Linked DNA regions of Homo sapiens: regions 1 and 3 are each linked to region 2. Evidence: fine-mapped expression QTL. A gene starts in region 2. Each other region holds a variant in brackets. All regions are shown on one strand. Distances are between the middles of the regions. Region 1 overlaps FKBP9 (FKBP prolyl isomerase 9). Region 2 holds the start of FKBP9 (FKBP prolyl isomerase 9). Region 3 has its middle 24 kb from the start of FKBP9.

What was found. PIP is the estimated chance that this variant, and not a neighbour inherited with it, causes the effect. A credible set is the group of variants that fine-mapping cannot tell apart.
Region 1: its variant is the best candidate, but not a certain one, in a credible set for the expression of FKBP9 in whole blood (INTERVAL, PIP 0.82).
Region 3: its variant is the best candidate, but not a certain one, in a credible set for the expression of FKBP9 in lymphoblastoid cells (TwinsUK, PIP 0.53).

What each region holds. Positions count from the first base shown.
Region 1 is chr7:32,992,410-32,995,171 of GRCh38, reverse strand. The region is part of intron 6 of FKBP9 (FKBP prolyl isomerase 9); the gene reads right to left. Among named protein-coding and RNA genes, the nearest start is that of FKBP9, 36 kb to the right of the region's middle. The variant G/A (reference allele first, on the strand shown) is at 1,463.
Region 2 is chr7:32,956,107-32,958,868 of GRCh38, reverse strand. FKBP9 (FKBP prolyl isomerase 9) reads right to left here and starts at 1,429. Exons shown (of 10, transcript NM_007270.5): 1 at 1,075-1,429. The coding sequence starts at 1,295. RefSeq lists a silencer at 1,173-1,642 and enhancers at 1,733-1,782, 1,632-2,582.
Region 3 is chr7:32,932,236-32,934,997 of GRCh38, reverse strand. It overlaps the pseudogene RP9P. Among named protein-coding and RNA genes, the nearest start is that of FKBP9, 24 kb to the left of the region's middle. The variant G/AG (reference allele first, on the strand shown) is at 1,414.

The DNA of each region.
Region 1 (2,762 bases), 36 kb before region 2:
CTAGGCAACACAGCCAAATGTCTCTACAAAAAAATTAGCTGGGCGTGGTGGTGAGCACTTGTAGTCCCAGATACTCGGGAGGTTGAGGCAGGAGGATTGCTTGAGGCCAGGAGGTCAAGGCTACAGTGAGTTAGGATTGCACCACTGTACTCTAGCCTGGGCAACAGAGTGAGACTCCGTCCTCAAAAAAGAAAGAAAGAAAGAAATGAAAAATTCAGACATGATATTACTTATTCAAGAGAATAACACAGCTAATGACAAAATTCAGATAGAGATACACAAACTCCAACAGTCCCTCCTTACCTCCTGTCCCAACACGTACTTTTCTGTGTCTGCTTCTTGATTGGTCTCTCTCCTATCTCTAATAGAAACACACTCACGCTCATATTTAATAGGCGTTTATTGAGTACCAGGCATTCTTCTAAATTAAACATGTATTGTTTAATTCTCATTAAAATCCTGAGAAAATGGAGGTACAAATTTTGGGGCTGGCCAAAGTTAAAGGTAATAATTTGAGAAGCGTGTGCTTTAATAGCAGAACACAGGTGCCTGCTACTCACTCAAAACAGGGGCTGCTGGTGTGGGTGGAGTGGGGTGCAGGCTCCTTCCCACAGGAACCAGGAAGTACAGCCTGCCATTGGCCAGAAGGCTGCTCAAAGCCAGGCCACGGATGGCTCTGTGTGGGAAGCTAACACACATGGACAGGGTGGGTGTCTGCAGAGGCAGATCTATGGTTCCTCAACCTTGGTAACCTGTTAAAAATCACCTGGGAATGAACCCGAAAACATTATGCTAAGTGAAAGAAGCCAGACACAAAAGGCCACATACTGTAGGATTCCAGGGATATGGAAACATCCAGCATAAGCAAATCCATACAGACAAGAAATAGACTACCTGTTGCCAGCGTGGGGGAAGTGGATGGATGAGGACAGGGTACGGAGAGTGACCGCTAATGGTTATGGGTTACTTTTTGGAGTGATGAAACTGTGCTGGAATTAGGTAGAGGTAATGGTTATGTTACCTGGTTAATATACTAAAAACAACTAAATTGTAAACTTTAACATGATTATTTTTATAGTATGTGAATTATATTTCAAGAAAACATTAAATAAAAATATCTTTCTTGGGTATATATACAAAAGAATTGAAGCTGGAGATGCGAACAGATATTTGTACACTCATATTCACAGAAGCATTAAGCATTATTCACAACAGACAAAAAGTAGAAACAGCCTAAGTGTTCATCACCAGACGAACTGATCAACAAAATGTAGTATATACATCCAATGGAATATTCATTCAGCAATAAAAAGGAATGAAATTTATTAGCCAGAAATGAGGAATTAATTTTTTTTTTTTGAGATGGAGTCTTGCTCTGTCATCCAGGCTGGAGTGCATTGGCATGTTCTCAGCTCACCGCAACCTCCGTCCCCCGGGTTCAAGCGATTTCCCTGCCTCAGCT[G/A]AGATTACAGACGCGTACCACCACACCTGGCTAATTTTTGTGTTTTTAGTAGAGACAGGGTTTCACCATGTTGGCCAGGCTGATCTTGAACTCCTGACCTCAGGTTATCCGCCTGCTTCAGCCTCCCAAAGTGCTGGGATTACAGGCGTGAGCCACCGCGCCCAGCTTGAAATTTTGATAAATGCTAAAATACAAATAGACCTTGAAAACATTATGCTAAGTAAAATAAGACAGACACAGAAAGAGAAATATTGTATGATTCCACTCAAGTGAGGCACTTAGAATAGGCAAATTGGTAGAGACAGAAAGAAAGGTGGTTGTCAGAGGTTGATAGGAGGGAGGAATCGGGAGTTATTGTGTAATGGGTTTATGTTGGGGATGATGAAAGAGTTCTGAGTGTAGATGATAGTAATGGTTATACAACATTGTGAATATATTTGATGCCACTAAACTGTACACTTAAAATGGTTAACAAGGTAAAGATGTTAAGTATATTTTACCACAAATTTTAAAAACTTCTAACACTGAGCTAAGCAGTCACCAAATTTTATCAATTCAAATATAATCTCCCCTCCAAGATGCATTCAGGTGCAGGGCCTTCTCCAGGGCAAAAGGGAATGCATCTGGAACCACCCACATCCCTGGGATCTGATGTCAGCAGTCAAATGAACTCAGCCTCTCAGGCCCCGAGGATTCCAGGCACAAGAATTCCAACCAGTGTAGAGGTCGATTCACACCCAGTCAAGGAACCATGTAGCATCAGGTGAGTATGTCAGCTTCTAGGAAGTTAACGTGAGTCAGTCTCCCAGGTGCCTGATAACCTCTGAGGCACACACATTATTGAGGGCGTCAACAAGGAAACACTCTCTGTGTGCGTAGGAAGTTTTGTTTGTGTTTCTTTCTGCTGAATCCCTAACACCGTGAGCAGGGCCTGGTCATGAAGAAACTCAATAAATCTTTGATGGATGGATAGATGGAGTTTCTCCGCCTGCAAAAATGAAGATCAGAGCCTTGAACCATAGACCCCACCTACCCCAGGCAGCACCAAGGCTTCGAACCTCTATCCCTCTATCTTGCTCTGACTTCCACAAAGCTATTTGTAGATTAAGTATAGAAATGAGTGCTGACCAGCAAACGGGCAGAAATAGTCCAACGTGGCTCCAACACCAACCTCCTCTCTGTATAAACCCTTAACCAATGCAGAAGTCATCATTCTGTTCTCACCATGAGGATGCCTCCCTCAGAAGAGATACAGATGAGAAAAACTTAAAAGCGGCCAATAGCCCACCCAAGAAACTCT
Region 2 (2,762 bases):
AGCCTTGGCGAGGAGTAGCCTGGTGCTGGACGAAGAGAGGCCTGTTAACCCCGAACCTAAACTGGAGGGAAACGGGAGAGCAGTGCTGTGATCCTGAGGCAGAGCTGAGAGAAGGAGTTCTGGGCTTGATATAGGGCCTGGTATAAAGCAGAGTGACGGTCCTGGACTACCTCCTGCCCACGAGAGGTGTCGTGTTGTGTTTTGTTTTGTGATGGGATCTCTCTCTGTCTCCCAGGCTGCAGTGCAATGGCACGATCATAGCTCACAGCAGCCCCAAACTCCTGGGCTCAAGCGATCCTCCCGCCTCGTTCTCTCAAAGTGCTGGGACTACAGGCGTGAGCCACCACGCCCAGCCCCAAGAGAGGTTTTTGTATGGCAGGAAAGGAAGGGCAGTGGTAGTTGCGCACACAGACTCTGGAGTTGGATTAAACAATCTGACTCCATTGTTTAAACACGTTTCTTAGCCGCAGTTGCTTGTTACCTTACTGATAAAATGAGGGTAGTGATAGTACCTACCTCACAAGACTGCTGTACAATTAAATGAGTTCACTACAATATGGAAAGTACTTAGAACTACACCTACACATTGTTAACAGCTCATTGTATGTTTGGGGCTGCTAGCCTCTTCATCATTGTTCTGTGTGAGAAGCACCATCTGACTAGATTCCCAAGGGAGCGGAGGGAAGGAACAGGAAAGGGCGAAGAGAGGCAGGCACGAACATCCACTCTTGGGGGTCCAGTTGTGCAACGTGGCCTCCACTTACACTGATTATTTTACACTGATTTTGCGTGTGTCCATGCGCTGGGAGGAAAGGGAGGACGTGGTCTGCCCCAACCCCGCTGCTCAAGGTCCTCCAAGGGTCCAGTCCCCGGCTGGCAGCCTAGGGCACGTGAGGGCCGGGAGGCTCACCCGCGGCGGAGGGTCTGGGGTCCGGGAGGATCTGGGCAGCGGAAGAAGGGAGGAGCGCGGCTGCACGGGGCGGAGCTAGGGGAGGTCCGGCAGGAGGGAAAGGCCTGTCCGGAGAGAGGGACGCGCATCCGCTGAGGCCGCGCCGGGCGCCAAGGGCGCGGTACCTGGAGTCGAACTTCTGGCCGTCGGGGAACGTCCCCACGTAGTGGTAGCGCACGAAGTCGCCGCTGCGCACGGTGCGCGGGCACTCGTCGGGCACGAAGCGCCGCTCGATCTGCAGCTCCGCGTCGGAGCCCAGGCCCGCCACGGGCGCTGCCTGCCCGGTCACCCAGAGCAGCAGCAGGAGCAGCGGTGGCGGCGGGGGCCTCCAGCCCCGGAACGCCATCGGGGCGGCGAGAAGAGTGGCGCGGACGCAGCGCGGCGCTCGGGCGGCACGGGTCGGCCTGGGCGTTCGGCTGCGTTTGCAAACGTGGACCGGGTCTCCTGGCCCTACCCGGGCTGCAGCCGCCACCCCGTCTCCCCGGCCGCCCGCCCTCCCGGCCGCAGCTCCAGGGGAGGAGCCCAGCCTGGCCGCGCGCCGAGGGCGGGCCTGCTGCGCCCTGCCCCGCCCGGCATTGGGAATGTGCGTGCCGCAGCGGGGAGGGGGGCTGGGAACTCCAGTGGGGACCAAGTCTGGGCCTAGAGAGGGCGTGTCCCCGAGCGAGACACTGTGATCTCCGGACAAGGCTTTGGCCCAAAGTCGGAAGAGAAAAGCGCGTACTGCCCAAGCCCACCCGCTGGTCTCCGCCCGTCCCTGGAGACACCGGGTTTGGTGCCGTGAGGGGCTCCTACGTGGCCGTGGATCCAATTTTCCCTTGCTGCTTTGGAGAGGGAGGGAAAATTAGATTTTAATTTTTTAAGCTTAGTTACAAGGGTATGGTCTACCTTGAAAGAGACCGAAACCATCCTTCAGGACTTTTTTTTTTTTTTTTTAATACTGCTTAAAGGAAAAGGAAGGCCGGGCGCCGTGGCTCACGCCTGTAATCCCAACGCTTTGGGAGGCCAAGGCAGGCGGATCACGAGGTCAGGAGATGGAGACCATCCTGGCCAACATGATGAAACCCCGTCTCTACTAAAAATACAAAAAAATTAGCCAGGCTTGGTGGCGCGTGCCTGTAGTCCCAGCTACTCGGGAGGCTGAGGTAGGAGAATCGCTGGAACCCGGGAGGCGGAGGTTGCAGCGAGCCGAGATCGCGCCACTGCACACCAGCCCTGGCGACAGTACGAGACACTGTCTCCAAAAAAAGAAAAGGGAGGCATGTATTGCGAGAGGCTCCCGTGACACTTGTCTAGGCAAAAGTTTTAAGGCACCGTGAGGGTCCTCCAAGCCATCAGCGGCCGCACTGTGAGCTGATACTTGCAGACATCCTACAAGCTCCCATATACGAGCCTATGCCAGGGAGGACTTCATCATAGAGACCCAGAAGCCACAGGAATCCATTAGAGTAATCAGATGCACTTGGAATTGGAATTGGGTGTTATAATTTATTAAAATTTTGGAATAATGAAAGCAAATCACCAACTCTTTCTCAACTCGTTTTGGAAGCAAACACAATTCTGATACCAAAACCTGGCAAAGAGAGCAACAAAAAAGAAAAATAAAACTGAAAAAACAGGGCACGATCTAATTTATAAATATAAATGCAAAAATACTGAATAAAACGTAATAAAATCGGATTCAACCGCATATTAGGCCAGGCGCAGTGGCTCACACCTGTAACCCTAGCACTTTGGGAGGCCGAGGTGGTTGGATCACCTGAAGTCAGGAGTTCAAGACCAGCCTGTCCAACATGGTGAAACCCTGGCTCTACTA
Region 3 (2,762 bases), 24 kb after region 2:
CCTCGTTTTTTAGAAAGAGGGTCTAGCTGTGTTGCCCAGGCTGGTTTTGGACTTAAGGATTCCTCCCACCCTGGCCTCCCAAGTGCTAGGATTATAGGCATGAGCCCCCATGCCCAGCCTTATATTGCCTTTTTTGATTCCGTAATGGACATTATCTATTTAAGGGGAAAGTTTTTTTCCTTCCACTCTTCTAAGGTCCAGGGCCCCTGTAACAGAAGATTAATAATAAAAAAAAAACAAGCATTGCCAGGCACAGTGGCTCACGCCTGTACTCCCAGCACTTTGGGAGGCTGAGGCGGGCGGATCACCTGAGGTCAGAAGTTTGAGACCAGCCTGACCAACATGGAGAAACCCTGTCTCTACTAAAAATACAAAATTAGCCGGGCCTGGTGGCACATGCCTATAATCCCAGCTACTCAGGAGGCTGAGGCAGGAGAATCGCTTGAACTCGGGAGGCGGAGGTTGCGTTGAGCTAAGATTGTGCCGTTGTACCCTAGCCTGGACAACAAGAGTGAAACTCTATCTTAAAAAAAAAAAAAAAGGCTGAGCGCAGTGGCTCACGCCTGTAATCCCAGCAGTTTGGGAGGCCGAGGTGGGCAGATCACTAGGTCAAGAGATCGAGACCATCCTGGCCAACATGGTGAAACCGCGTCTCTACCAAAAATACAAAAATTAACCAGGCGTGGTGGCGTGCGCCTGTAGTTCCAGCTACTCGGGAGGCTGTGGCAGGAGAATCGCTTGAACCCGGGAGGTGGAGGTTGCGGTGAATTGCACTCCAGCCTGGAAATGAGGGCGAAACTCTCTCTCCAACAAACAAACAGAAAAAAACAAGCAGAAGTTTATTACCATGTATATGTTCTATATACATGGGAGATACCCAGTGGAATGAAAAATCTTGAAGAAGTGGTTTTGGATTCAGGCTTAAATACCATGTTCAGCTAAATCAAAGAAAGAAAGATATGGGGGAACTGAGCTATGGGATAGTGACCAAGAAAAGTATGATAAATAAAGGTAAGGTTTGTTATGCAGGTTTGTGTCTGTGCTTTCCCCGTTGTTAGCATTCTCTTGTGATTGAGAGACATTTTTCTCTTTCTTATATAGAAAGGGTCTCACCTGTGGCCAGGAGCGGTGGCTCACGCCTGTAATCCCAGCACTTTGAGAGGCCGCGGTGGACAGATCACGAGGTCAGTAGTTCGAGACCAGCCTGAGCAACATGTTGAAACCCCGTCTCTACTAAAAACAAAAAAAATTATCCGGGCGTGATAGTGCGCACCTGTAATCCCAGCTACTCAAGAGGCTGAGGCAGGAGAATCGCTTGAACCGGGAGGCAGAGGTTGCAGTGAGCAGAGATCAAGCCACTGCACTCCAGCCTGGGTGACAGAGAAAGACCGCATCTCAAAAAAAAAAAAAAAA[G/AG]GGTCTCACCTGAAATGGAGATTCCCTTTATAGATGAACATTTGTCTTACAAAAGGGTGACTTCGGCTCTCTTTTCAGAGCTTCCCCTGTGTCTGCTGTTTCTCAAAATGATCCTTAGCCAAAAAGGTGTGCTTTGAGGTAGCATATTCTGGTCTCCTACAGCTATTCAACTGAGGACAGAGTAGGTAAGATTTTAGTTGTTTTACTACCCTTGTCTCCTTCCTTCCTATGTAGTCATATTATAATAATTTTTGCTAAATTAGTAGTTAATATTAACATAAGTATTACTTTGCAATATCATTCACTTTTGCATCAAATAGTGACCTATGATTTATTTTGTATTTTTAAAGTAGTTAATAAGAGCCTGAGTTTTATTCATTTGCTTTTTTTTTTTTTTTTTTTTTTTTTTTTTTGAGATGGTCTCGCTCTGTCGCCCAGGCTGGAATGCAGTGGTGTGACCTCAGCTCACTGCAACCTCCATCTCCTGGCTTCAAGCGATTCTCCTGCCTCAGCCTCCCGAGTAGCTGGGACTACAGGTGTGCACCACCATACCCAGCTAATTTTTGTATTTTTAGTAGAGATGGGGTTTCCCCATGTTGGCCAGGCTGATCTTGAACTCCTGACCTCAAGTCATCCACCCACCTCAGCCTCCCAAAGTGCTGGGATTACAGGTGTGAGCCACCATGCCTGGCTGAATATTATTTTAAACTTTGGAAATATCTTAACATGCTACATAAACTAATGAATTGTTTAGCCCCAGGGAAAAAAGCATCAGCGCCCCCCCCCCCTTAAACTGGTGGGAACTCTTGTAAAATGGACTATTTAGGAAATGCCATTGCAAATAATAATAGAATTCAGAATGTGCAGTTCTATCACATTCCTTTTCCATCTAGGCAATATAGTTACATATTTTTCAGGAATTTGGAACTTAGTTTGGCCATATGTTGTTTGTTCAGCTCCTGTGGCAAAAATAATTATTTGTTGGATTATTGGATATTTTCATAGACTTTACCACCTCCCTTCCAAACTCTCTTAGGCCTCTGTGCATAAGGCATAATATTTTTTAATTTTTATTTAATTGTTTATTTGTTATTTTTTGAGACAGAGTCTCGCTCTGTTGCCCAGGCTGGAGTGCAGTGGTGCAATCTTGGCTCACTGCAAGCTCTGCCTCCCGGGTTCACACCATTCTCCTGCTTCAGCCTCCTGAGTAGCTGGAACTACAGGCGTCTGCCACTGTGTCCGGCTAATTTTTTTGGATTTTTAGTAGAGACGTGTTTTCACCGTGTTAGCCAGGATGGTCTCGATCTCCTGACCTCGTGATCCGCCCGTCTCGGCCTCCCAAAGTGCTG